Linked DNA regions of Homo sapiens: region 2 is linked to region 1. The links come from fine-mapping of genetic effects on gene expression. A gene starts in region 1. The other region holds a variant in brackets. All regions are shown on one strand. Distances are between the middles of the regions.

Region 1 (14,358 bases):
AGACTGCCACAAAGAAGTCCTTCCCATCCAAGATATGATTTCCCCCCCAAGATTGAGATTATTTTGGAAGTAATCCTTCTATTGTTGGAGGCAGTTTAAGGATGTCACCATAAAATGGACTTTACCTTGTTCTTTTTCTGTTTCTCTCCGTTGCGATTCAGTTTTTACGTGTTCATGGACAAGGAGACCTGGGTTATTTTTGGATAACTGGCACAGGGTTCAAGAGAAATACAGAATTATTTCATGGAATAAACCCTAGATTGGGAACTGGGAGAGCTGCTCTCGCTTTGTGACTTTGAACATGTTGTTTATATTCTCTGGGTCTCAGTCTCCTCATAGAAGTTAGAATGATCTTGCTAGAAAGGACCCTTCCTCTAGCACAGTGGAGGGGAATTTCTCTCCCGCCTTACCATGCCCCAAAGGCACTGTGGGCAGCAATGGTGACTGTTACCCACCCAGCTAGCCAGTGTGACTCAGAGTGGCCGTGCTTGAGTCACATATTCAGTGTTGTCAGTGGCTGTGTCACCAAGGATTGCCAGAGGCCTTTGCTATTTTCCCACAGCTAACAACCTGACAGGATAGGGTCAGCAGCTTCTAGTTAACAGCTGGCCAAAAGAAGCAGGGAGACATCTCTGCAGGGGAGGAGGTTCATGGGAGTTTGTTCAAGCAAGAGAGGCTTTTTCTCTCTTGGTAGTTTGTTACTGCAGCAATAGAAAACGAATGGGGGAAGCAACACAGAGCACACAGTCACTCAGGAGCTGGGAGGGGTTGCCAGTGCGCCTCCCCTTCATGAAACCACTTCACTTTTTTTTTTTTTTGAGATAGAGTCTCGCTCTGTCGCCCAGGCTGGAGTGCAGTGGTGTCATCTCGGCTCACTGCACCCTCCATCTCTTGGGTTCAAGCAATTCTCCTGCCTCAGCTTCCCGGGTAGCTGGGATTACAGGTGCCTGCCACCAGGCCCGGCTAATTTTTTTTGTATTTTTAGTAGAGACAGGGTTTCACCATGTCGGCCAGGTTGGTCTCAAGCTCCCAAAGTGCTGGGATTACAGGCGTGAGCCACCGCGCCAGGCCAGAGCTTCACTTTTTGTGCATCTCTCTCTCCTTGGAACATTTGCTGTACTGATGACTGGGTCTCAGTGTTCTGTGTTTCCCCACATACACCACAACGCTACTCTTGTGAGCTACTCAGAGGCCTAAGCATCTTGGCCTGTGGGACTTTTATTCTCTAAGACAGTGGTCCTCAGAGTGTGGTCTGTGGCCCAGCAGCAACAGCATCATCAGGGACTAGAAATGCAAATTCTTTATTCCCACACTAGACCTACTGAGTCAGGCACGCTGAGGGTGGGGCCCAGCAACGTATATTTTAACAAGCACTCCAGGGGACAGTGATGCGTGCCTAAGTGTGAGGACCACTGTGCCAGGAGAGGGACCTGCAAATCCTGACAGACAACAGGTCTCCTAATGCAGGTACCCATGGGCCAAGGAGCCAGCAGCCACTCTCCTGTGACCTTAGTGCCCAGCCAGTCAAGAGCCTGTCTCAGGGTGAGAACATCTTCCTCCCTTCCACAGCCCCTTGAGGGGTCACCTTTGTACAGTCTGACTGAGTTAGACACGGGAGAGCTGCTGAGCTTGTTGAGTGGATGTTTTATCTCCTTAGCCAAGACTCCATTCCCAGAATGAAGACGGAGGGAAGAATGCTTTTCCATATGTTCTTCCAACAAGTCATATGACAGATGAGGAAACCGAGGCTCAGAGTTTAAGTTACTCATCCAAAGTCATGCTGCTAATAAATGGCAGAGTCAGAATTTGGACCCACGTCCATCTGCCCTCCAGTGTCCTTTCTACCGCAGCAACTTGCATCCCTTGACCAGAGCCAGCTCCAGGAGGATAGGGCCTGGCTTTTTCTGGATTTGAGCTGGAGCCCTCACTGAACTCTTGACCTTGCTGTGGGAACCTCCAGCTAAGCTTCTCAGACACTGGGAGGCAGGTCCTCTCCTTGCTTTCACCCTGTCAGCACAGCGGGCATCTCGGACCATGCTGGATCCCGTCAGGGATGTGGCAGCTGCCAGTCAGTTAAGTCACAAGCCTCAGCAGGCCTGAATGATAGCCAAGGTGGTCACCGTGCCAAGTGGATTGCAGCCAGGAGGTGCCTTGCCTAGCCCACCCCTCATCCTTTATTTGGAGGCCCCTCACCATCTCAGGCAGGGTCTTCTTCCCCCAGCAGCTGCTCAGAGCTTGCCATGCACCCCCTGGTTCTTATGGTAGCCCAGTTTAGCAAACGGACCTGAAGTTTTATAAATAGCGCAATGGCAGGCTGGGAAGCTGTCCTGTGTAAGAGGACAGAACATGCATTCTCTGCTCCTCGAGCCATTTCCTGGGATCGGGTGATGGGAGTGACTTCTAGTGCAGATAAAGTCGAATTACTCTTATCTTCTAGGTCTATACTCCACACTTGGTCTTGCTTCTACTGTTTGGTATGTCTGTGGTTTCCCCCTACTGCTTCTGCCTTTATGTGATGGTGCTTCCAAGTCTGCTCCCGGGACGTTTCCTGTTCTTGGAACAGCTGCACCAGCCTGGGGTACCCTCCTGCTACTTGATCCTATAGGGAGGTGTCCAGTGGCTGTGGGCAATTTTCAGATGACCTTGTTCGTCTGACGTCATTAGATCGCTATTTTTGGCTTTGCTGTTTATGCTGCAGAAGTTGGGCTGGAATGGGAGAGGAGGAATGAAGGAGGGGCTGCTCTTGGTTTCCCATTGTTCCAGGGTCCTACCAAGTAGGTGCATTTATTCTTCCACATTTACAGAGCACCTACTGAATGTCAGGCCCTAGGGCAACCAAACTGATTCTTCACTCACTTATGAATTTATTTTTCAATGGGCATTGCTTTGTGGTACGGAGTAGTAATTAAATGTGAGGGCTCTGGAGCAAGAGAGTTTGGATTTAAATTCCAGCCCGCCATTTACTACCTCTGAAACTCCTCTGTGCCTCAGTTTCCTTTTGGAAATGGGAGTGATTATAGTATCTACCTCATAAGGTTGCTCTGAAGATTAAAAGAGTTAATATCTCTGTCTGACACATTGTAAATACACAATGAACGTTAGTGGCTATTACTACTAACCACAACAGCACCACGTATTGTACTAGGTACTTGGGATATGAAATTGAATGTGATGTAGTCTGCATCTGTTTTGCACTGGCATCTGGACTCCAAGGGTCTCAGATATTGGGATGGGGTACCCAGTCAACACCGTCAGAAAGAATACCTGCTGTGTGTACTATTTTTCCTACCTTATGTTGGAGGGCATTCAAGGGAAACAGAAATTGAAGTTTCTGGCTGGGCGCAGTGGCTCACGCCTATAATCCTAGCACTTTGGGATTATAGGGAGGCCAAGGTGGGTGGATTGCTTGAGGTCAGGAGTTTGAGAGCAGCCTGGCCAAAATGGTGAAACCCTGTTTCTACTAAAAATGCAAAAAATTAGCTGAGCATGGTAGTGTACAACTGTAATCCCAGCTACTCAGGAGGCTGAGGCAGAAGAATCACTTGAACCCAGGAGGTGGAGGTTGCAGTGAGCAGAGATTGCACGACTGTACTCCAGCCTGGGTAAAAGAGCAAGACTCCGGCTCAAAAAAAAAAAAAAAAAAAGAAACATACAAAAAAGAAAATGAAGTTCCTGTCCTAGGAAAGCCTTAGATCAGTGGCTCTTCACCCTGCCACACATCAGAATCTTTTGGAGAGATTTTTAAAAATACCAACATTCTGGGCCCCACTCCAAATGTTCTTAATTGGTCTGAGCTGAGGAGGGGCTCAGACTTCAAGAGTTGTAGAAACTCTCCAGGTGTTTTCAGTGTGCATCAGGGTTGAGAAGTGTGGCCCTGGGTTATAGGGATATGAATCCTGGAAGCTCTCCACTGACTGCACCAGGGTGACTGTCAGGACAGTGCCTCAAATCTGTTCCCTCTTCCAAGGCTCTCAGGATGCTTTCTAGAGAGCTGGCTCTCTGACTTGGTGGTTCTTGAACTTGGATGTGCATGAAAAATCACCTGAAATGCTGGTTTATAGACATTTCTGGGGCCTCATTCCAAGGAAGCTCCATTTTATTTTTTATTTTATTTTTATTTTTGAGACTTAGTCTTGCTCTATTGCCCAGGCTGGAGTGCAGTGGCATAAGCTTGGCTCACTGCAACCTCTGCTTCCTGGGTTCAAGTGATTTTCATGCCTCAGCCTCCCGAGTAGCTGGGATTACAGGTGCTCACCACCATGCCCGGCTAATTTTTATATTTTTAGTAGAGATGGTGTTTCATCATGTTGGCCAGGCTGGGCTTGAACTCCTGATCTCAAGTGATCCGCCTGCCTTGTCCTCCGAAAGTGCTGAGATTACAGGCATGAGCCACTTCGCCCAGCCAGGAGGCTTCATTTTAAACCAACTCTGGGGCTTAGTTACTGAGAAAGCCTTGCAGTAGCTGAATTGCGAGTTCTCTGAGGCCCTGAGCCAAGAAGTCCTTTCATGGTGTTTTATAGCTCTTACCATTTTCTCTCTGAAGAAATCTGTGTCCACGTTGATATATTTGGAATTACTTATTGATCTGATTAAGAGTTACAAGTCATTTCCAAAAAAGTTGGAAAATCTAGATGAATAAAGAATAAAAATAATCTCTATTTCTACGCCTGTAAATATGTCCATTTATATCCCTCCAGCCATCTTCTTTGTAAATATTTTGAACAAAAAGGATCCCGCTCTATGGCTGATTTTTATTTAATTTATTTATTGAGACAGGGGCCCACCCTGTCACCCAGGCCATAGTGCAGTGACACAATCATGGCTCACTGCAGCCTCAACCTCCTGGTGTCAAGCAATCCTTCTACCTCAGCCTCCTGAGTAGCTTGGGACCACAGGTGTGCACTGCCACGCCTGGCGAATTTTTAAATTTTTTTGCAGAGATGGGGTCTCACCATGTTGCGCAGGCTGGTCGTGAACTCCTGGGCTCAAGTGATCCTCCAGCCTCGGCCTCTTAACATGCTAGGATTACAGGCATGGTTGATTTTTATAGTCTTTTTTCACCTAAAATGTAATATGCAGTGATTCTATAGCTCTCCCCCAATTTCATCTCTGTGTCCTGAAAGTGACCAGTTTAGTCCTTGTCACAGTAGAGCCCCCAGTAATTAATCTTAGCAATAAAATTCTATAACTGTGGGATGGAACAGTGTGTCAATTGCGTTTTCGGAGAAACCTATGTCCAATTTGCACACAGAACGCCCACAGACCTCTGCTTACTAGCTTGGCTGGAAGGACAGGGTCTGCTGTAAGGACAGCAACCTTACCTAGGGCTTTTCCAGAGGCCTGAGAGGTCCTGCCAAGGCCCTGGGCTCAGGGGTCCAAGGTGGGAGAGGGCGAGAGAAAACAACGTGCTAATGCAGCCTTGAGTGGCTCTCAAACAGGAGCAGAGGGAAGGCTGTGAGGGGAGTTGGCTGCTCTCTTTGGAGTCAGAAAGGTTGTTGCTCAACTCTTTGGATTTTCCATCACAGCTGGGCAGGGAGAGGGTCAGACTGGGCATGACTTCTCCGAACAGGTCCTTTTAAAGCCTCTTGGCTGAACTGATTTCCTCTCCAGAGCCAAGGAAGCAGTGCCTGGGTGAAGTTAACCCCTTCACCCCCAACACATTCTTCCAGAGCTAGGTGAGCCTGGAAGCCTAGGCTCCTGGAAGGCAGAGCTACACAGGGCAAGAGGCCTAAGGAGCCGTGAACTCTGGCTGGAGAAACCTTCCCTCTGGCCTTGTTAAATCCAACAGGCATAATTGCATCCTGCTGACCTTAATTCCCCTGGCGGGTTTAATTGGTCTTGGCATTGCCCCACTTCCTGTCCTGCCCCTGTAGAGGCAAAGAGGGTGTCTGCACAGCTGGTGCAGGGCGGGGAAGCCCCTTCTTGAGGGTGGGCAGGGGCTCTGGCAGCCCCTAGGTGGGTGGAGGAAGTTTCCCCGTGCCCCACCCCTGTGCCTCCAAGGGAGTGCTGAGAAGCTTGGGGACTCCCAGGGAGCAGCTGGCTGGAGCAGGCAGTCCCGTAGATTCGGAACCAGGCCAGACTCTCATCCCAGTGGGAGGCACTGCAGGGGAGCTGGCGGGAACAGATGAACCCTCTACCTGGGGTGTCCACGACATTATCAGGCCCCCACAGTGCTGTAGGTACTGTGCCATTGGGCACTCTTTACATGTGTGCTGGCTAAATGCTCGCAGCCATGCTGTGAGAGGGAGGCAATGGGGCAGAGCAGTTATGAGCAGAGCCTTGGGTTAGATGGGTCCAATCCCAACTCTATGACTTTGCCCTGTGACTCAGTTTTCCTGTCACATCTGTGAAATGGGGATTAAAGAGCTGACATTTATACAGCACTCGCTATGCTCACACTCACTGTTGTAATGCTTTATCTACCTCCTGGGAGGCAGATGCTCTCCTTACGGATGAGGAAACAGGTGAAGACATTGTTCCAAGCTCACAGTTACTGGTCGCAGCGCTTCATTGACAGATCTCCTAATCACTGCATGGTAGGGAGTTGTAAGACTCGAAGGAAGGATACTCATGAAGCTGCTTACCCCAGGGCCTGGTCCATTTTAGAAAGAGTTCAATAAGAGTAATTATTTGGGAATAATAATTATAACAAAAGTAGCACTAATGCCCCTGAAGTTGTCCCAGGCTGGATTTTGGTCTCATTGGGAGGTGGCTCTGGATTTGAATGTGGGTAGTTTGAAGCCATTCACTAGCTGAGTGACTGTGGGGACAAGCCACTTCCCTCTGTGAGCATCAGTTTCCACACCTTTAAAATGGTGTAACATTGGCCCCTACAGTCCCTTCTGAGGATCCAGGGAGCTGGATCTTTGGCATAGTCTGGCCTGGCCGTTGGTGGGCACTCAATAAATGACTGGTATTGATAACCACAATAATAACAAGGAGATGCCAGCAAGGTCCAGCATAGGGAGGTAACAAACTCCAGTCTGGAGCCTTCTGGTTAATCAGTTATTTACTCATCAGACACTGATGGGCAAGTCCACTCTGTGCTGGGGATGTGTTTAGCCCCTGGCCTTCAGGGGGCTCCCAGACAGTGTCAACCAATGGTGGGATCAGCTGGGGCACTGTGGGGAGGCCAGAAGCAGGGGACCCAACATTCCAAATTAAACTAAAACATGCTCTGGGCCAGATAGAGGGCCAGGAGGTCCTAATGATCCGCATTAGGACAGGAAACATTTCAACCTTTTGAATGCTGCAAGATCCACAAAGGGGTTACTCAGCAGGGAGAAGGGGGCAAGGCACAGGCTGGGACATTTTAGGAAGGGAAGAGGGCTTTGGAGTTTGAAGAACGACATTCCAAGCTCAACTCCCTTCCTTGCTGAGTGACTTTGGGCAAGCTACTGATTCCTTTAACTCTCCTCGTCCTCATGCAGAAAATGAGATGAGCGCTCCCCACAGAGTTATCATCAAGATGATGCTTAAAGGCAAGATGGCTAAAACGAATGACAGGTGCTCAGCAAGTGGAAGCTCCCTTTCTGCAGGGGACCTGGGTTCAGAGCTCAGTTCAGCCCCTTCCAAGCTGTGACTTTGAGTAAATTACATAACCTCTCCATGCCTTGGTTTCCCCATCTCTCTAGTACCTACCGCACTGGGTTCTTCTGAAGACCATTTGGGTGGATCAACATGAGAGCATGCAGAGCGAGGCCAGGCACGTGGTCAGTACCGTATAGGCATCAGCTGTTACTTTTGCTTCCTGGAAGAGGCAGACTGTTAACTGGACCTTAAAGAAGAGAAATGGAGGAGAGGAGGACCGGGCCTGGAGAGGAGGGCCAGGCAGAGCAAAAGTAGTCAAGACTGGGGAAAGAGCTCCAACTATGGTTTTTACCAGCTTATACCAAAAACCCTTGACATTTGCTCACAAAACAAAACATCCCACTCATTTTGAATAGTAGCCTGTTCACATAGTTCATGGTTCAAACAGAAAAGTCAAAGTATATACAGTGATGTCTCCTTCCCACCCTTGGGGCCCAGTTCCTTGCTTATCCTACCAAATAAATTCTTATGTGCATAAAGTGAAATATATATTATTCATATATTATTCTCCCTTTTTTTTTTGCACAAATGGATAGCACACTCTACATGCTACTTTGCATCTTGCTTTTTTTATTCCCCCCACTTTGGTGGTCACTTTTTGTCAGTTCATTAACAGCTTCCTCAATCTTTTTTTACAGGTTCCTATTTCCCCACTGCTTAGAGGGGCTGCATTCTCCCTCCTTTCTCTCATCAAGCGTTTTTCCAATGGCTTCCCATTTGACAGAGGAGCCGAGGCCATGGAGTGAAGTGACTGGTTTGCTGCAGTCAGGACCTGAACCTGGATAACCACTCTACAGCTACTTCATTTTATCTTACTTTTTAAAATATAAAGACGGGGTCTTGTTATGTTGCCCAGGCCAGTCTCCAACTCCTGGCCTCGAGTGATCCTCCTGCCTCAGCTTCCCAAAGTGTTGGGATTACAGGTGTGAACCACTGCTTCTGGCCTCTACAGCTACTTCTAATGCACCCAGGTCTGGCCAGTTCTCAAGAGCCCCCTCTGAGAAAGGCTCTGGGTGATGGAAGGCTCCTTGGATCATAGCTGTCCTCATCCTATCTCGAACACCTCAGGCTAGAGTGCCCCTCGGGCCACCCCTGTAGTGGAGCATCCTTGAAAAGACTCTCTGCCAGCCCCCTTCTTCCATGTGGGTCATGGGTGAGAACTGGATGAGCTTGGGGGAGGGGCACAGAGCACTCTCCATCTCCCATGGCTACTCAGGGCAGCCTCCGTGTCCCCAGGAGCCCAAGAAAAGGACAGTTTCAAAAGAAAAAGCTTCCAGGCCTATGGACATGTTGAGAAAGTGCCCCCGAGACAATTTCTTACCCAAAGGTGACGCAAGCAGGTCCAGATGTCGAGGCACAGAGCTAGGCACTAGGGTCAGGGAGATTATCCCTGGGACTTTGTGGCTCTAGCCAGGTTCTGGGGAGCCCCAGGAGATGTGGCACACAGGTGGGCAGACCAGGGCTCAGCCTGGGCATACTCTTGCCCTTCAGGCCTGCCTGAGTACTCCCCTTCTTCCAGGCCCCCTCTGATCCTGTCCAAGTCAGGGATACTGAGCAAGGCCTGGGGAAAGGGCTGCTCCCCCAGCGTCCCAGATACCCCTCCCTTTTCTCGCTTGTTCCAACATCATTCTCCCCCCAGTCGGGCCATGGGAAGAATGCCGTGTCCTCTGAACTGGGGCCAAGAGTGACAGGTGGCGGCAGTCCCAGCTGCATGGCCCCTGGTGTAAGAGATCCTCTCCTCCGTCCCCGCCTCCACTGCCCACACCCCTGCCTCCGCCTCTGCCCACCCGGCCCAATCCCTTACAACTGCCCAGGACTGCTCCTGAGCAGCCGCTGGGAGACAGACGGCAACCAGGTTGCCCCTCTTTGCTCCAGGTACCTCTCTCCCCTCAGTTAGCAGGCCTCGGCTTCCTGTCTCACTGCAGCCAGACGAGAGGGGAAATTGGACAGCCTGACACACTCCACTCTTGTTTCTGCAGCTAGAAAGACTTGAGTTAGACAAGCAGCAGCACACGCCTCCCTACCTCATGGCGACAGAAAATGGAGCAGTTGAGCTGGGAATTCAGAACCCATCAACAGGTGCCAAGCTGGGGCAGGAGATGGAGGGAGGAGCTTGGGAAGGGGGGTTTTGAATCCAGGACTGGGCAGGTTCCTCAGTGGGAGTTCTGTGCCCCAGCCTTGTTTGCATGGTGCACGGGGGACCCAGAAATCAGAGGAATCTCTGGCTAGGGTTGGGCTGGGTCCAGGGCCTGTATGAAGCCCTTCCTGGAGAGACCAGGAAAATGTGAAGCCACCAGGGATGGCTGCTGGGGATGCACCTAAACAGTCAGGGCAAGGATGATGGGGGCCACCAAGGCCCACCCAAAGGGCTGGAAGCCTCCCACAGAGGCCCTCCAAGGTCGTGGCAGCTCATCTCTAGGGGCCATCAAGTGGCCCCAGAGACTCAGTGGGACAAGCATTTGCAAGTTGTTGCCTGGGTGGGAACCTGGGCCCAGAGCTGGTCTCTGCCCAGCCTGGGTGAGAGGGAAGGAAAGGAGGGTGGATCCTGATGGGTGTCTCACCTCCTCTGCAGACAAGGCACCTAAAGGTCCCACAGGTGAAAGACCCCTGGCTGCAGGGAAAGACCCTGGCCCCCCAGACCCAAAGAAAGCTCCGGATCCACCCACCCTGAAGAAAGATGCCAAAGCCCCTGCCTCAGAGAAAGGGGATGGTACCCTGGCCCAACCCTCAACTAGCAGCCAAGGCCCCAAAGGAGAGGGTGACAGGGGCGGGGGGCCCGCGGAGGGCAGTGCTGGGCCCCCGGCAGCCCTGCCCCAGCAGACTGCGACACCTGAGACCAGCGTCAAGAAGCCCAAGGCTGAGCAGGGAGCCTCAGGCAGCCAGGATCCTGGAAAGCCCAGGGTGGGCAAGAAGGCAGCAGAGGGCCAAGCAGCAGCCAGGAGGGGCTCACCTGCCTTTCTGCATAGCCCCAGCTGTCCTGCCATCATCTCCAGGTGAATATCCCCTCCTGGGAGTGGGGAGGGGTCCTGTGGTTCTGTCCCTAGGGGTCCTGCTTAATTCCCTTGTCTTAGGCATGGTTATCATCACATTCAGTGCTGGGGAGTGTAGTTCTGACATTCAGTTTCCTCTGTCCTGTGAATTGCCTCTACCGCCTTGTCCCCTGCAGAAACCAGAACCCTGCCACAATTCATACAAGACTGGAGTAAGAGAGACCCTCAAAGACTGCCTAGGTTGAACATATCTTCTCTAGGCTTCTGGGGTCCGAAGTTCCCCTTACTCCATGGGCTTGGGTCTAGCCAAGGGCAGGGTTGAGATGGCAGGCAGAAAGGCTAAAGGTGTCAGGCAAAAGGCTGTGTATTTCCTAGGACATCCAGTATTTTCCTGTTCTTCTTAATATAATTATTGGTAAGATATGAAAAGATGACTAATAACCAGATTGGAGGATCATTGATAATATTTTCATAACCATAATATAGCACATGTGTGATGCCATCAGTTATACTTACCTGAATGCTAATGAGGTCATTAATGATATATTGTAAGCCACAATAAGAACATTTACCATATCACTTTGATAATTATGTATCAATTATATCACAACAGATTTTATGAATCAAGAGCTACATAACTCCCTAGTTGTATCCACATGATGATTAACCATATCAACAATCCTATTAATAGTTATTAATGATGTATTAGTGTGTTGGTAGTCAAGATAATGACCACAGCCATGAACATCCCTTAATTTTGTACCAGGTGAATTTGGCTGTATTACACCATGCATTTGGGGTGGGGTTGGATTAGCTCTGCAGATTGCATTGAGACTTGCCTGATGCCACAGGCTGTGGCCGCTGAGGGCTTCACCTCTGTGTTCTCACCTTCTAGTTCTGAGAAGCTGCTGGCCAAGAAGCCCCCAAGCGAGGCATCAGAGCTCACCTTTGAAGGGGTGCCCATGACCCACAGCCCCACGGATCCCAGGCCAGCCAAGGCAGAAGAAGGAAAGAACATCCTGGCAGAGAGCCAGAAGGAAGTGGGAGAGAAAACCCCAGGCCAGGCTGGCCAGGCTAAGATGCAAGGGGACACCTCGAGGGGGATTGAGTTCCAGGCTGTTCCCTCAGAGAAATCCGAGGTGGGGCAGGCCCTCTGTCTCACAGCCAGGGAGGAGGACTGCTTCCAGATTTTGGGTAGGCCAGGGGCAGGTGGGGGCTGGGGCTGCCCTGGGGCCAGGGGGAGGGAAGGGGGCTGTCAGTCCCAAGTCTACCTATTCGGAGGTCTGAACTGCCCTGAGCCAAGCCTTACCCAGGCCCATTCATCTAAGGGTCACACAACTCCAGAAAGTATTCCTTTTTTAACGTATGTTTATTCATTTGTTTATTTGTTTTAAAAGATAGGGTCTTGCTACGTTGCCCAGGCTGGCTTCAAACTCCCAGCCTCAAGTGATCCTCCCACCTTGGCCTCCCGAGTAGCTGGGACTACAGGCGTGTACAACCATACCTGGCTTTCTTCAATCTTATTTTTTAAGATGTATTTTTATTTTTAAATTTAGTATTCCCTTTTGATAGATGGGGAAAGGAAGGCTCAGAAAAAGGAAAATGAAGTGCCCAAACATATCCAGTGAAGACAGGATTTGAACCTGTCAGGCCACCCAGACTCCAGAACCCACTTTTGAGTTTTTTCTACTTTGACTAAAATGAAGTTAAAAAAAAGAAAAATCAGGCAGATTATTGGAGCAACACAAACTCCCTGGGCAATGGAATTTGGAGTCAATCTGTAGAAGGGCTCAAATGCCAGGCTTAGTAGCTAAACTGTATAGTGGGGTGGGGTCGTGGGAGCTATAGAGGGCTCATGCGCTGAGGAGCACAGGTGCCTGTGTGTGGGAGCAGTGACCAAGGAAGCTGGGCATGTGCAATGGGGCAGGACTGTGGAGTGGCCTTCATTGATGATTAGACAAGCAGCCCGTGGCTTGTTCATGGGCTGCAGAGAGCACTGAGTGTGAGTGAGCTTGGCCAGCAGGTGAATAGGGAAAGGGCCTGGGCAGGGGTGCGGCAGGGCTGGGGGTGGGGTGAGATGGGGTCAGGAGAACCCAGAGTGTCCTGACACCCCCCTGCCTCCAGGCTGAAGTGCCCTGGGAGACCCGCCAGCCTGCCTGGTGAGCGGCACCGTGCCACCCAGACAGGGTGGGAGGACCTGGCGGCTGGGCGGCAGCCAGGAGCCCTGCCTCCGCCCCTAGCAGCCGCAGAGACCTCCGCCCCGCCCCGAAATCGCATCCTAGAGTGACAGGATCTGAACCACCTCCAAAGGCCGTTTGATTTATCACCAGCCCGGCTTCCCTGCCGCCTCTTGCTATTTATAAAGAGGTTTCCATTCCTGATGACCGCCTGCCGGCCTGCCAGCCTTCAGGGCGAGCGGTTCCCCACACTTGCCGCTAGGTGGCGCCCTCTCCCCACCAAACAGCACGGTCCCCGGTCCCGCCCCGCCATGGGTGGTCTGGCCAGATTGCGGTGTTATTAGGATGGAGGGTGGGCAGGTCCCACCACCTACCCCATTATTCAGACATAGCAACCCCACTGCCTGGCATTCCGCTTTATAGCTGCTGTGTTTGATTGTTTTTGGTGGAAATGCAGATAGCTTGGGATGGAGTCCTTGTGTCTTATAATGCAGAGGGTCCAAAAAGTCCAAGCTCCCATCCCGTTTGTTCTGCCAGGAGAAGCTGGTCCTCCCTGATAGGAGTGTTGTGTTGGTGGCAGAACTGATATTGGAAACTGGGCCCCATAGCCCCTATCCTGGAGCCAGGTGTCCCCCAGGTATCACTTGGTGAACTTAACTTCCCTAGATGGGGCCCAGGCCAGCAGGAGGGGTGGTGCCAAGGGGAATCCTCAGCAGCCCCTGGCACTGACCATGAGGGCTGTGCTCTGTCCCCCAGATGATTGCCCGCCACCTCCGGCCCCCTTCCCTCACCGCATGGTGGAGCTGAGGACCGGGAATGTCAGCAGTGAATTCAGTATGAACTCCAAGGAGGCGCTCGGAGGGTGAGATCTGGGACCCCAGCTGGGCACTCATGGACAGAGAGTACACCGGGCTCCTGTGGCTTCACATTTCCCCTGTGCAAGGCCCAGACACACACCCCGCTGAGACATGGCCACATGGACATGTTCACCTCTGTGTGGGACACACACTGTGTGCAGCTGTCACATGCTGATGTGCACTCAGTGTTGCTGTCACTTACTCAGACGCACCGTCAGCCATTCAGTGCTTCCGTAGGAAATACACAGCATTTTTCTGTCTGTCTCAGCTCCAGGCACCACACTGACCCCCTCATGGTGATTCCTGCTTTGTAAAAAGCCCTGACTCAGTCTTATACCTCTGCAGATCCTCCCTCTGCCTGAAGGTGCCCTCCCCCAGGGCCCAGGGCCTGCCTGCCCTAAACCTCTAAGGGTCGCATCCCAGGGCCATCCTCCCTACACGCCTGCTCTTCCTGTGCACGTGGTCTGTGTGGTTCAAAGAACCTGCTTCAGCCATTGTCCTGGCAGAACAGCTCACAGCTTCAGGAGGGAGTCAGGGCTGGCTGGGGTGAGTGCTCCCATCTCACCAAAGGGGATCCAGAGGCACCACTGGGTCTGGGACCAAGTTAGGATCAGAGCAAAGGATGCCACTGACCCCGGTGGGCTCTGGGGTCCCCTCACTTACAGCCTCTTCTCTTTCCAGTGGCAAGTTTGGGGCAGTCTGTACCTGCATGGAGAAAGCCACAGGCCTCAAGCTGGCAGCCAA
Region 2 (15,050 bases), 66 kb before region 1:
GTGCAATGGTGCAATCTCAGCTTACCGTAACCTCCGCCTCCCAGGTTCAGGCGATTCTCCTGTCTCAGCCTCCCGAGTAGCTGGGACTACAGGCATGCCACACCTGGCTAATTTTGTATTTTTAACAGAGATGGGGTTTCTCCATGTTGGTCAGGCTGGTCTCGAACTCCTGACTTCAGGTGATCTGCCCGCCTCTGCCTCCCAAAGTGCTAGGATTACAGGCGTGAGCCACCGTGCCTGGCCTTGCAGTTTTTTTTCCCCCAAATATTTTTGATCTGCAGTTGATTGAATCCACAGATATGGAACTCATAGATACGGACAGCCAACTGTATTTCATTTTTAAAAAAATCATACACTAAAAACTTTTGTTAATTTTTTTAACTTTTTTTTTTTTTTTTTTTTGAGTCGGAGTCTCACTCTGTCGCCCGGGTTGGAGTGCAATGGCGCGATCTCTGGCTCAATGCAACCTCCGCCTCCCAGGTTCAAGCAATTCTCCTGCCTCAGCCTCCCGAGTAGCTGGGATTACAGGCACCCGCAACCACACCCGGCTATTTTTGTGTTTTTAGTAGAGACGGTTTCACCATATTGGCCAGGCTGGTCTCAAACTCCTGACCTCATGATCTGCCCACCTCGGCCTCCCAAAGTGCTGGGATTGAGGCTTGAGCCACCACGCCCGGCCTCTAATTTTTTTAACTTAATAATCAGGCTATGAATATTTTCCCGTGTCATTAATAAATTTTCTTCTCTTTTCTTTTTTGTTTTTTTTGAGACAGGGTCTTGCTCTGTCACCCAGGCTGGAGTGTGCACTTCAGTGGCGTGATCACAGCTCACTGCAGCCTCCATCTCCTGGGCTCAAGTGATCTTCCTGCCTTAGCCTCTCGAGTTGCTGAAACTACAGGTGCATGCCACTGTACCTGGCCAAATTTTTCTACAACATAATTTTAATGGCTATATGGTATTCCATTATTTGGTTCTTTATATTACTTTTACCAGTGAAATTGCTGGTCTAAAAGAATGCGTATTTTTGGCCGGGCGCGGTGGCTCACGCCTGTAATCCCAGCACTCTGAGGAGGCTGAGGCGGGCAGATCACCTGAGGTCAGGAGTTCAAGACCAGCCTGGCTAACATGGTGAAACCCTGTCTCTACTAAAAATACACAAATTAGCCAGGCATGATGACGGGTGCCTGTAATCCCACTTACTCGGGAGGCTGAGGTGGAAGAATCACTTGAACCTGGGAGGTGGAGGTTGCAGTGAGCCGAGATCGCGCCATTGCACTACTGCAGCCTAGGCAACAGCGAGACTCCATCTCAAAAAACAAACAAACAAAACATATTTTTAAAAACTTTTGACATGTAACACCAAATTGCCTTGTAGGAAGATTATGCTGATTTACCTAAAACAGTATATATTCACATAGGCATAAATGTATAACTTAAAATAGGTAATATATTTGCATGGTGCAAAAATCAAAAGAATATAAAAAGCTTCATGGTTTAAAATCTTCCTCCAGCCTTGTTACTTCTTCACTCTCACCATCCATAGGTAAACACTTTTTTTTTTTTTTTTTTGGAGACAGAGTCTCACTCTGTCAACCAGGCTGGAATACAGTGGCACAATCTCAGCTTACTGCAACCTCTGCCTCCCTGGTTCAAGTGATTCTCCTGCCTCAGCCTCCCGAGTAGCTAGGATTACAGGCACGCCACCACACCTGGCTAATTTTTGTATTTTTATTAGAGATGGGGTTTTGCCATATTGGCCAGGCTGGTCTTGAACTCCTGACCTCAGGTGATCCACCTGCCTTGGCCTCCCAGAGTGCTGGGATTACAGGCATGAGCCATCTAATAAACACTTTTATTAGGTTCTTGGGTTTGAGTGTTTGTGTGTTATTCCCCAAACCAGATACCTTTTGAAGGGAATAAATCTCTATAAAATGAAATGACTGCTATTTGACTAGGATTGTAATCTGCAGCCACACTGTCAACCATTACAAACTTTTTCAGCTTCATACTATTGGAATATCAGATTACTTTGGGTTTCTACTAAGATTTCCTTTTAGTATTTTACAAAGCTCTCTGTCATTATCTGTCCTAGTAGTAAACAGCATCATTGATTTCCATCTAGGTCCTATTAGTCATAGGTGGATTATGGTTTGTTGAGTTCTATGGATAAATTATAGCAAAACTGAGTTTGTAATCCTTAAAAAAGGGCAATATGAAACATACAAGTTTGGGAGAGAAATGATAGGAAATATATTTGCTTGAAGTTTCTGGACAGTGATGAATTAGAACAAGTGTCCATGTGTCCTGTGCTGACTTCTGAGTGTTGGACAGTGAGGGATTGTCATTGGATTTTAAATTGACCCAATTTTGGAAGCTTCATAGATCTGTTTCTGTAAACAGATCCAATTTCAACATAGAAGTTAGCAAACATAAATGTGGAAACACAAAGTCCATTAAACTTCCTTCAGACTTAGTTTGTGACTTTGATTAACAGTTAAAATTGCATGCTGGATTATGTTGCCATTTACTGACTGCTGCTAATCCCTTATATACAAGAAAAAAATGTAGGTGTTTTCTCTCTGGGTAAGATGAAAGTAACTCCACTCTATTTTACTTGTGGTAATGTAACAGGATCTCTTATCCCTTGTGAAAGTAGGAGAGGATGTCCCTGGAGAAATGGCACTGCCTGGGATGGGACCATCTTAACTAACTATACTTCTAATGAAGTCTTGTCTTACTCTGTTTATTCTATTATATTACCAGTTTAACTCATGACTTTCTCTTTAATAGAAATAGGCAAGTCATATCTCACTGACTGGATAGCAAGGTGTTTGAGAGCATCTGTCACACCAAAGTCTTTGTTTTGCTCAGGAGCTGGTAGTCCCCTATTTCACCCTGCTTAGAATGCACCCTCTTGCAGCTTTCCCCAACCCGGTCTGAACCTGCACCTTTTGATTTATAGAGCTTGTCAAGACTAGTTATTTTTGGTTTGAGAGTGAAGAAAGATGGGAGGCAATGGGAGGTTAATTTCAGATGAATGTGGGAACAGGTTACATTGCTTTGTCTGCAATCTTCCTAATTTGTATTTGTCTTCCCCTTCCATTTATCTCTTACCCTAGAAAAAGTCAACGTTCATTCTTAGCTTGTAGAACTCCGCAGGTCTGTCTGTATCTTTTAAGTATTTTTTACATCAGGAAACCATCTCTGATCCTCTTTTATGCTGTTCTCCTTCTCTGCACTTCCAGAGCGCTCTCTGTTAATGCCCTCTTGCAGCAAGGATAGCCCTATATTGTAATTGTTTGCATTCCCCCATTCAATTGTGCGTTCTTGGAGGGAAGAGATTTTTTTTTGTTGTTGTTGTTTGAGAAGGAGTCTCGCTCTGTCCCAGGCTGGAGTGCAGCGGTGCAATCTCGGCTCACTGCAGCCTCCACCTCCTGGGTTCAAGCTATTTTCCTGCCTCAGCCTCCCGAGTAGCTGGGATTAAAGGCACGTACCCACCACGCCCGCTAATTTTTGTATTTTTAGTAGAGACGGGTTTCACCATGTTGGCCTGGCTGATCTCGAACTCCTGACTTCGTGATCCGCCTGCCTTGGCCTCCCAAAGTACTGGGATTACAGGCATAAGTCACTGTGCCCGGCCGAGATTTTATATCTCTATCTCTGTCTGTCTGTCTGTCTGTCTGTCTATCTATCTATCTATCTATCGTTTTAGTCTTCGCTTTTTGGAAACAAAAATGGGCTATAAGACACGATGGATGGCATTGAATAGGCAGTTTTTAGAGGAACCTAATTGGTTCATAGCATACAGGATAGGCTTTTTCCTTGGGTCTTTGTAGGAATATTGGTCATTAATAGCTATTTTTCCATGCAGAATATTTCTAGTTTTGCAAGAATCTGAAGCTGTGGTAGATTCAGATAATTTTGAAATGTGAAGCTGATTCTCTTGCTTGGCAACTTGATTTGTTTGGGGGAATGTGGTTGACGCATGTGCCTTTTTTTTTTTTTTTTTTTTGGTGAGACCTGTTGACAGAAATTCAATCTTGATTAAGGGACGCAGGAAGGCATCCAGTTCCCACCATGCCTGGGGCTCTCTCATTTAAACAGCTGCCTTTGGCTCTGGCCTGTTCCATTTCCCACTAGGCCCTGTGGACTTTAATTTTGGAAGATTTCACATCCTCATATTTATTATTTCTGGGGGAGGTAGTGTCGTGAAACCGAAATTACCCAGTAGTTAGCTTTTCGTTTTCTTGATGTACTTGTCCTATCAGCCTTAATTGAAGAGAGTCAGACTTCTCAATGGATATGTATTTATTTATTCTCTTTTTCCAGGGAGAGGGGATGGTCTCCTGAGTTGGCCATTCTAGACCAAAATATAGCTTAAAAGAAGCTTTTTTAAAGAACAGGTCATGTTAGGAAAATAATATTTTGTTTTTAAAATTTCACCTAAAGATTAAGTGTACTTAGGTTTGCACCCCTCGCCGTTTGTTCCCCACTAATCAAATGTAGTCTTAGACCTCAGAGGACAGCCTTTCTTCTGCTGCTTGAACCCTCTTCATAGTCTCTTTACTCTAGAATATCACTGAGGTTTTCACTAACCACCATCTTATATAGAGGAAAAACTTCATATGGAAAAGTATACTTAAAAAAAGAGGAATCAATGGATTTTTTAAAAAATTTATGGGAAGATTCAGATCAGAGCTTTCCAAATATATTTATAACAGGATTTGTAATTTGCTAAAGTTTTCTTTATGAGCATATCAGGGATGCTTAGTTTTCATAAAGGGCAGGATTTGTCTTTGTTGAACAGGATCTTATGATTTGATTACCTACCTCCTTTTTGAAGCAATGTTTATAGGAAAACTTGTGCATTAGAGAGACCCCAGATTTTGGAATCCTGCAGACTTGTTCTTTTAAAACTCAACACTGCTATGTATTAGTTTGGTGATCTTGGAATAGTGTAACTTCTCTGAGCTTGTTTCCTTGTTTATAAAATGGTGATGGTAGCATTTATTTATAAAGACATCTATCTATTGTCTATATTGTTAATGCAGTTTAAACGAGATGATTTATGTGAAGTGTCTGGTAAGGTGCCTGGCCTACAGTAGACAGTATTTGGAAGTTATTATCTCTTGCTCCATGACATTTGTTATTTATCTATTTAAATGTGAATTTTTTTTTTTTTTTTTGAGACAGAGTCTTGCTTTGTTGCCCAGGCTGGAGTGCAGTGGCGCGATCTCGGCTCACTGCAACCTCCGCCTCCTGGGTTCACGCCATTCTCCTGCCTCAGCCTCCCGAGTAGCTGGGACTACAGGCATCCACCACCACGCCTGGCTAATTTTTTTGTATTTTTAGTAGAGACGGGGTTTCACTGTGTTAGCCAGGATGGTCTCAATCTCTTGACCTCATGATCCACCCGCCTCGGCCTCCCAAAGTGCTGGGATTACAGGCGTGAGCCACCGCGCCCAGCTTAAATGTCTATTTTTAAATAAATAGGCAGTGGATAAGAACACCACCTTCGGTGTCTATTCCATTTGGAATCCTGGCTTTACTGCTTCTTAGCTGCATGACTGTGAATAAGTAGTAAATCTCTCTGTGCCTCAAGTCCCTCAGTATAGAATGAAGATAATAACAGTACCTACTTTATAGGATTATTGTGAGGATTTAGTGAGTTAATACATGTAAGACACTGTCAACAGTGTCTGGCATGTCATAAGTGCTCATTAAGTAATAGCTGTTGGCCGGGCACGGTGGCTTACGCTAGTAATCCCAGCAGTTTGGGAGGCTGAGGCGGGTGGATCACTTGAGGTCAGGAGTTCAAGACCAGCCTGGCCAACATGGTGAAACCCCGTCTACTAAAAATACAAAAAATTAGTTGGGCATGGTGGCAGGTGCCTGTAATCCCAGCTACTCAGGAGGCTGAGGCAGGAGAATCACATGAACCCGTGAGCCAGAGGTTGCAGTGAGCCAAGATTGTGCCACTGCATTCCAGCCTGGGCGACAAGAGTGAAACTCTGTCTCAAAAAAAAAGAAAAAAGTTAATAGCTGTTTTTATTTTTAACTTTTTCAAATTTATATACCCTTTTATTAAGTCAATGCCCCAGGAATCATTTTTAGTTCTATATAGAAATCTTATTATTTGTTTATTTTTAATTTTTTAAATTAATTATTATTATATTTTTGAGATGGAGTCTTACTCTGTTGCCAGGCTGGAGTGCAGTGGCACGATCTTGGCTCACTGGAACCTCCTCCTCCCGGGTTCAAGCTATTCTCCTGCCTCTGCCTCCCGAGTAGCTGGGACTACAGGCGCATGCCACGATGCCCAGCTAATTTTGTGTTTTTAGTAGAGACAGGGTTTCACCATGTTGGCCAGGATGGTCTCGATTTCTTTTTTTTTTTTGAGACGGAGTTTCGCTCTTGTTGCCCCGGCTGGAGTGCGATGGTGCGATCTTGGCTCACTGCAACCTCCACCCCCCAGGTTCAAGCAATTCTCCTGCCTCAGTCTCCCAAGTAGCTGGGATTACAGGCATGCACCACCACACCTGGCTAATTTTATATTTTTAGTAGAGACAGGGTTTCTCCATTTTGAGGCTGGTCTCGAACTCCTGACCTCAGGCGATCCGCCCGCCTTGGCCTCCCAAAGTGCTGGGATTACAGGTGTGAGCCACCGTGCCCGGCTATTTATTTATTTATTTATTTATTTATTTATTTATTTATTTATGAGACGGAGTCTCACACTGGAGTGCAGTGGCATGATCTCGGCTCACTGCAACCTCTGCCTCCTGCATTCAAGCGATTCTCCTGCCTCAGCCTCCCGAGTAGCTGGGATTACAGGCATGTGCCACCAAACTCAGCTAATTTTTGTATTTTTAGTAGAAAGATGGGGTTTCACCATGTTGGCCAGGTTGGTAGTTCTATATAGAAATATTAGAAAGAGAATATGTAACATTTGGGTAAGTTAATAGTCAATTTATAGGCCACGTAAATGGGAAGGATTATTTCCTTAAATCAAGAGATTAGACAATCATTGCTTGTCATGAATATTTAATAAAAATTTGAGAAAGCTCAGTTTCTTTTGGGCTGCAAACATAGATCTAGGGAAATAAATACTGCTTAACTATTTTGTTGTTGTTGTTGTTGTTGTCTTTTAAGAGACAGAGTCTCACTCTGTTGCCCACGTTAGAGTGCAGTGGTGCAATCGTGGGTCACTGTGGCCTCAAACTCCTGGACTCAAATGATCCTCCCACCTCAGCCTCCTGATTAGCTGGGACTACAGGCACACACCACCATGCCCAGCTACTTAGGAGGGGTTGAGGAGGGAGGATCCTTTGGGCCCAGGAGTTCGAGTCTAGCCTGAGCAACAGGCTAGATTCTTTAAAAAACAGAGATGAAAAAGAAAGAAAAAAAGGATGTGAAGGGTTAAATTTGAACACTTTCCAGGTAGTTTTCAGCATCATGCTTTGGTGGAATCATGGTTTTGAGGCTAAGTGGGGTTGCTGCATGTTACATTCCTGCCTCTTCCTTCCCCCAGCTTTAGTCGTCTTCATTACATTCATGCCTGGGAAGC[C/G]TTCCCAGTGACCTGAGTTAGGCATTAAGATCATGGGAATCCAAGATTTTCCCATGTCTTCTAGCATATTTGTTCACAAGAAAAGGAAAATTTCCTCCTTGCAGCAAGGGGTTTTTAACCACTGTCAGTACCATGGAATCTTTCACTAAAAATCCTTTGAATAGAAATGTGGTCAAGGAGAGGAAAGGTATCAGCAGTGATAATACCTTACAATAGTGTATTTCATAGCACTTGAAGTAGCTTCTTATTTGATTATGGTAAGAAGGTAGGCAGAGAATTAGTGACTTGCCTATTGTCATATACATGTGGTAAATGCCAGAGAGGGCATTCTGGACTTCTGTTAGTTGGAATTGCTTTTGACTACAGGTGACAGAAAATGTGGCTATAATGGTTTATACAATAATTATTATTATTTTCTGAGATGAAGTCTCACTCTTGTCACCCAGGCTGGAGTGCAATGGCGCAATCTCAGCTCACTGCAACCTTCGCCTCCTGGGTTCAAGTGATTCTCCTGCCTCAGCCTCCCGAGTAGCTGGGATTACAGGCACCTGCCACCACACCTGGCTAATTTTTATATTTTTATTAGAGACAGGGTTTCACCATGTTGGTGAGGCTGGTCTCGAACTCCTGACCTCAGGTGATCCGCCTGCCTTGGCCTTCCAAAGTGTTGGGATTACAGGTGTGAGCTACCGTGCCTGGCCTATTTTTTTTTAGTATAAGAAGTCTTTTTAGCAGGTCATGGAAAATTGTAAAAAACACCAGAAGTCTAGAGGTATATAGTAGCTGATATTTGATCTTTAATAGTCATTAGCTCATTGATGTTAAGCCCTATGTTTATTGTTCTCTTGGCCATCTACTCATGTATACCAGATGACTGCCATAGCTCCAGCTTGCCTTCAAGGCAAGAAGAAGGATAAAGGGAAAGGGCAGGAATAAGGGCTATAGCTGTTTTCAGGAAAGAAAATTTTTTCCTAGGAATCCCTCAGCAGATTCTTACTTAGTTCTCATTGGCCAGAACTGTCCCATGGCTACCCCAAGCTTGGAAAGTGGCTATCAGGAGGTAACTTCCATTTTAATGTACTTGCTACTGTTTTGGTCATGGTCAATGAAAAATATTTAATCGTACCTTGACTTCAGCCATGTTAATTTCTAATTCTCTATACTTAGAGTTCATACTGTATAATTTAAACAAACTGTCTTATTTATTGTGTATGATAGGACCTTAGCGTCTATGTAGATGTTAAGTTCCTTTGTGTTCAGGACTACATCTACTTTTTTTTCTTTTTTTTTGAGACGGAGTCTCGCACTGTTGCCCAGGCTGGATGCGGTGGCGTGATCTCGGCTCACTGCAAGCTCTGCCTCCCGGGTTCACACCATTCTCCTGCCTTAGCCTCCTGAGTAGCTAGGACTATAGGTGACCGCCACCATGCCTGGCTAATTCTTTTTGTATTTTTAGTAGAGACGGGGTTTCACCATGTTAGCCAGGATGGTCTCAATCTCCTCACCCTGTGATCCACCTGTCTCGGCCTCCCAAAGTGCTGAGGTTACAGGTGCGAGCCACTGAGCCTGGCCGCTTAGATCTACTTTTTGTGTGAAGATATAGAGTGTCATCCTTGAATGTTACTGAGAAACATTCAAGGGCACACAGCTTATGGCCCCTAGCAAGTACACACTATTGTGAACCACTGACAAAAAGCTTATTGAGTTAAGCTTAATAATGAAAGTAGAAATGGAGGAGAGAGGAAAATTTAGACTGGGGATACCAAAGAACCCCTATTCCAGACAGAAGACTATGGAGAATGGATTTACTTGGAAATAAATACAGTATTCTTTTCTATGCAAATAGCTTAACTTCATGAACACCCTTCTTTAATTCACAAGGTAAGAGGGCAGAAGGATGTAGAAAGAACATTGTGCTGAAGTCACGAGCCTCAGGTCCAGATCTGGCTCTGTTTTTACGTAACTGTGTGATACTGGGCAAGTCATTTAATCTTTCTGATCTTCAGCTTCTAGGTTGGGAATAATTGCTGCTTTACAGGATTGTTTTGCATATCAGAAAGAATACATATTTAGTATATCATGGCACCTGGCATGTAATGAACACCTCTGGTAACTGTTTTTACCATGATCCTTAGGATTTTTGTTGTGTGATCTTGGAGAACCCCTTTTTGCTTTAAGTTAATATCTTATAGACTGCAAAGGTTAGGTGTTAATCAAAGTTTCCTCCCAATTCTAAAATATCATGTTTCTACACTAAGTACCTCAATTAGAGCATTGTTATAAAGATACTTGTGGAATTCTGGCTGCAGTGAGCATAGGAGAGACCATGGGAAGATGATGTTCTCTGGGGTCTAGATTGATGTCACTGTATAAATGAAATATTTGTTATAACAGATGTTTCTGGCCGGGTGCGGTTGCTCATGCCTGTAATCCCAGCACTTTGGGTGGCCGAGGCAGGCAGATCACCTGAGGTCAGGAGTTCAAGACCAGCCTGGCCAACATGGTGAAACCCCATCTCTACTAAAAATAGAAAAATTAGCCAGGCGTGGTGGCGCACGCTTGTAACCCCAGCTACTTGGGAGGCTGAGGGAAGAGAATCGCTTGAACCCAGGAGGTGGAGGTTGCAGTGAACCAAGATCATGCCACTGCACTCCAGCCTGGGCGACAGAGCAAGACACCATCTCAAACAAAACAAAACAAAAACAACAACAATAACAGATGTTTCTGAGACACTATAAGGACCAGAAGTACATTATTTTTATTTATTTTATTTTTTGAGACAGAGTCTCGCTCTGTCTCCCAGGCTGGAGTGCAGTGGTGCGGTCTTGGCTCACTGCAGCCTCCCGGGTTGAAGTGATTCTCACCGAGTAGCTGGAACTACAGGTGCAGCCACCACCCCAGGCTAATTTTTGTATTTTCAGTAGAGATGGAGTTTCACCATGTTGGCCAGGCTGTTCTCGAATTCCTGACCTCAAGTGATCCTCCCGCCGCGTCCTCCCAAAGTGCTGGGATTACAGGCATGAGCCACCACTCTCAGCCCCTAGTCCATTTTGAATTGCCCTAGTCCACTGAGAGAAGCTGTGAAATGCTGGCCAAACCACTGAACGGCTATGTAGGTTGGGAGTAACTAATCTCATGATTCATCTCAGTGGATAGCTTATGTGGTATAGTTTAGAGAAAATGAGTGCTGCAGTGCCCAGAGTTGGGGAGAGTTTGGGGAACTGGCACACTCCTGGTAATGTAAGTGGGTGTTTTTTTCTTCTGAGGGACATTTTCACAGTATGTGTCAAGAGCTTTTGACCCAGCAGTTCCACCTCTTAAGATTTATCTTAAGGGAAGAATTATGGATGTGTACAGAAATTTAGCTACAAGGATGATGCTTTAGCAGTATCTTTAAAGTGAAAATATTGGAAAAAGGCTGAAAATCAAGGATAAGTAATTATGGAACAGATACAGCCATTAATTGATATGTCTATATTTATTGACATACAAGAATATTCATAATATGTGAAGCAGATTCAAACTGTCAATGATTCATTTAAAAAAATAATAGTTTGTATATATATGAGGGAGAAGACATCTGGAATAGTGTAGCATTATAGGTTTATTTATTTATTTATTTTTGAGCCGGAGTCTCGCTCTTGTCACCCAGGCTGGAGTAGAGTGGCGTGATCTTGGCTCACTGCAACCTCCGCTGCCTGCGTTCAAGGGATTCTTATGCCTCAGCCTCCTGAGTAGCTGGGATTACAGGTGCCCACCACTGCGCCTGGCTAATTTTTTGTATTTTTAGTAGAGACAGGGTTTCACCATTTTAGCCATGATGGTTTTGATCTCCTGACCTCGTGATCCACCCGCCTTGGCCTCCCAAAGTGCTGGGATTACAGGCGTGAGCCACCGTGCCCGGCCGCTTTTTTGTATTTTTAGTAGAGATGGGGTTTCACCATGTTGGCCAGGCTGGTCTCAAACTCCTGACCTCAGGTGATCCATCCGCCCTGGCCTCTCAAAGTGCTGGGATTACAGGCATGAGCCACTGCGCCACACTAGAAAGGTATTAATTTAAATAAACATTTATTCAAGTGATTACTGGCATCTACCTCCCTTCTAAGATACAGATACTTTTAAGTACATGTCGTTCCCTGGATAAAAACAAATGGCTGGCCGGGCGCGGTGGCTCACACTTGGGAGGCCGAGGTGGGTGGATCACTTGAGGTCAGGAGTTTGAGACCAGCCTGGCCAACATGGTGAAATCCCGTCTCTACTGAAAACAAAAAATTAGCAAGGTGTGGCTGTGGGCGCCTGTAATTCCAGCTACTAGAGACTGAGGCAGGAGAATTGCTTGAACCCGGAAGGCAGAGGTTGTGGTGAGCTGGGATCATGCCACTGCACTCCAGCCTGGGGGACAGAGTGAGACTCCGTCTCAAAAAAAAAAAAAAGACAAATGGCTCATTGGGTTTCATTGGCAAATTATTGGCCACTGAGTGTGGCCTTTAGGCTATTTATCAGATTACTTTCAGCTATTTTATTAACTAGATTAGGCTTGAGTAGGAGCTGACTTTAAACCTTCACAGGTTTCCACAAGATAGAGTGCAAAACTTCGTACGCAGGAGTAGGGAGGGGCCTATTTAACTTGTTCCCTTATCCTTGCTTCTGTTCCTATGCTGCATGTTGTGACTCTTACGTGTATTTCAAAGTTGTCGTCTTTATACTCAGAAATAGTATTTTTTGAGAATATTTCTAAGAAAAGACAACTTATATTTGACAAAACTGTGTTGAACTCTTACTATGTATAATGCACTGTGTTAAGCACCTTGATGGTTGGATGGATGGATGGATGGATGAGGTATACACAAGTGAGTAAAATCTATCTTTGTTTTTAGGAACTTCGAGTCTACTGGGAGAGACATTTACATAGTTAATATAAAATTGGATGATAAGTGTTACAGTGGAGATATAAACAAAGCACAATTGGCTTTGGAGAGGCAACAATTTTGTATGATAGGTGGAAATTGGGAAAGAGTTCATAGAGATTTGACCTGGACTTTGAATGATGGATAAGATTTTGGTTGGTAGGCATAAAAATTAGTGGTGTATTTTAGAAATTGGGTTATTCAGGGCAGAGAGAGAATAAATTGGGCTAGAGGAGGCTAGAAATGAGAAAATGGTAAATTGAGGGAAAATAATGACATGGTGAATGTAAAACACCTAGCACAGTGTAGATACTTATCAAACTTTGCCTCTTTTAAAAAACATTTAGAAAATTTATTTATTTATTTTATTTTTATTTATTATTATTTTTTTTGAGACAGAGTTTTGCTCTTCTTGCCCAGGCTGGAATGCAATGGCGCGATCTCGACTCACTGCAACTTTCACCTCCCAGGTTCAAGCGATTCTCCTGCCTCACCCTCCCGAGTAGCTAGAATTACAGGCGCCTGCCACCATGCCCAGCTAATTTTTTGTATTTTTTAAGTACAGAAGAGGTTTTGCCATGTTGGTCGGGCTGATCTTGAACTCCTGACCTCAGGTGATCCACCCGCCTCAGCCTCTCGAAGTGCTGGGATTACAGGCGTGAGCCACTGCTCCTGGCCTAAAATTTATTTTTAATTTCAATTTTTTCTTTTTGGTTTTTCTTTATATTTGCTGATTACTTAAAGATAATTTTTATTTTTTTAGAGATAGGGTCAACTACTTACAGATAATTTTTATCTTTTTAGAGACAGGGTCAACTGTTATACTTAGAGATAATTTTAATTTATTTAGAGACAGGGTCTGTCTATGTTTTGTAGGCTGGACTTGGACTCCTGGTCTCATGTGGTCCTCCCTCCTCCCAAAATGCTGGGATTACAGACGTGAGCCACTGTGTCTGGCCCACTTCTTTCTAATTCCAAACATATCTACCTCAAGGAGTATCTTTAAGTTACCTGAAAAACTAATGTTTAGGTTGATTGGACAAAGTAAGGCTATTTTCAGTAAATTCTAGGTGGTTTGCAAAATTACAAACGTGGTAGTAAAACCAAAGTAATGATGGGAATTTACTTAGATTTATGTGCAACCATTTCTTTCCTCAGAAGGTGACCTGCTGAGAAAAGTGGTACAAATACTGGGAAAAACCTGCTCTTCTGCGTTAAGTGGGAGACAATGTCACAAGTTAAAAGCTCTTATTCCTATGATGCCCCCTCGGATTTCATCAATTTTTCATCCTTGGATGATGAAGGAGATACTCAAAACATAGATTCATGGTTTGGTAAGTGCCTGCTTTCTCTGGCTATTTTAAGGATTAGTGGCTTGCTTTGTGCTGAAGACCTTTCAATAATAGAAGGGGTTGCAAGAAAAGAACTAAAATATCAACTTCTTTCTGCACCAAGACATTCTGTCATCCATGATATTATGGGAATAATTGAAATGCCCAGTATTTGGGGAATGGATTGTAAGTACAAAGCATATGTTGTTTTGTAGTTCAGAATGGCAGATTTAAGCTTTAGGGACCTATGGGAAAGTTCAGATGAACCAGTGTTCAACAAAACTCCATGCTCAAATATGTCTGTAGTGATGGCAGCCACATAAAAACTTTGTCTACTATCATTAGGGATAGATTATATCACAGCTAGGATATTGACATTCATACAATCTACCAGTTTTACTCAGATTTCTCCAGTTTTACTTGTATGTGTATTAAGTTCTCTGTGGTTTTATCACCTGTGTTGGTTTATGTGTCTACCATCACAGTCAAGATCTTTTATAATTACCCTCACCTCCCTCCTGCCACCCCTCCCTCAATTCATTTTTTTTTTTTTTTTTTTTGAGGCTGTAGTCTCGCTCTGTTGCCCAGGCTGGAGTGCAGTGGTACAATCTCAGCTCACTGTAACCTCCGCCACTCTTGTTCAAGCGGTTCTGCCTCAGCCGCCCAAGTAGCTGGGATTACAGGCGCCCACCAGCATGCCTAACTAATTTTTGTATTTTTAGTAGAGACAGTGTTTTGCCATGTTGGCCAGGCTAGTCTTGAACCCCTGACCTCAGGTGATCCACCCACCTCAGCCTCCCAAAGTGCTGGGATTACAGGCGTGAGCCACTGCGCCTGGCCCTCAATTCATTTTTAAATGGAAGGATTATGCTACTAAGAACCCATTCCCAGAAACAGTATTGCTTGGCCAATGGTAAGTAAGAATGTGGTTACATTTTTACATTACTTTGAAATAATATCTGAGACTAGTTGTTGAGGCCCCTTTGATTCTTTCTCTCATGTCTCCATCCTCCTTATCGGGAGAAATCACTATGAATATGTGGTGGGGAACAGAAGTGAGTCCATTGCAGCTGTACTTATCCGTATAGTGCACTGTCCAAATGTGTTGACAGGTGCCATTTTTTGGAAAAGGACTTTAATGGCATCTAGTGGGGATCCTGAGAGGAGTCGTCTGTTGGAAGTGGTGTGGGAGGAAGGGTAAATAAATACAAGGGCCAGCTGTCCTGCGGGGATCTTCCCCATGCCCTT

Which allele goes with the higher level. Alleles are on the strand shown, and positions count from the first base shown. SD is a standard deviation of normalised expression in the study named.
For the expression in gastroesophageal junction of the gene that starts at base 9,393 in region 1, allele C in region 2 goes with a lower level than allele G (moderate effect, 0.61 SD a copy in GTEx).

Evidence for each region.
Region 2: its variant is fine-mapped to the expression of MYLK2 in gastroesophageal junction (GTEx, PIP above 0.99). The same link has a PIP of 0.9 or more in esophagus muscle, left ventricle, sigmoid colon and transverse colon.

Annotation. Positions count from the first base shown.
Region 1 is chr20:31,809,964-31,824,321 of GRCh38, forward strand. MYLK2 (myosin light chain kinase 2) reads left to right here and starts at 9,393. Exons shown (of 13, transcript NM_033118.4): 1 at 9,393-9,465; 2 at 9,570-9,669; 3 at 10,163-10,583; 4 at 11,476-11,774; 5 at 13,514-13,619; 6 at 14,296-14,358. The coding sequence starts at 9,618. RefSeq lists enhancers at 5,721-6,523, 9,877-10,418, 12,748-12,807, 13,275-13,802, 13,803-14,329 and a silencer at 13,108-13,157.
Region 2 is chr20:31,743,778-31,758,827 of GRCh38, forward strand. TPX2 (TPX2 microtubule nucleation factor) reads left to right here. Exons shown (of 18, transcript NM_012112.5): 3 at 13,630-13,805. The coding sequence starts at 13,700. Among named protein-coding and RNA genes, the nearest start is that of TPX2, 12 kb to the left of the region's middle. The variant C/G (reference allele first, on the strand shown) is at 7,565.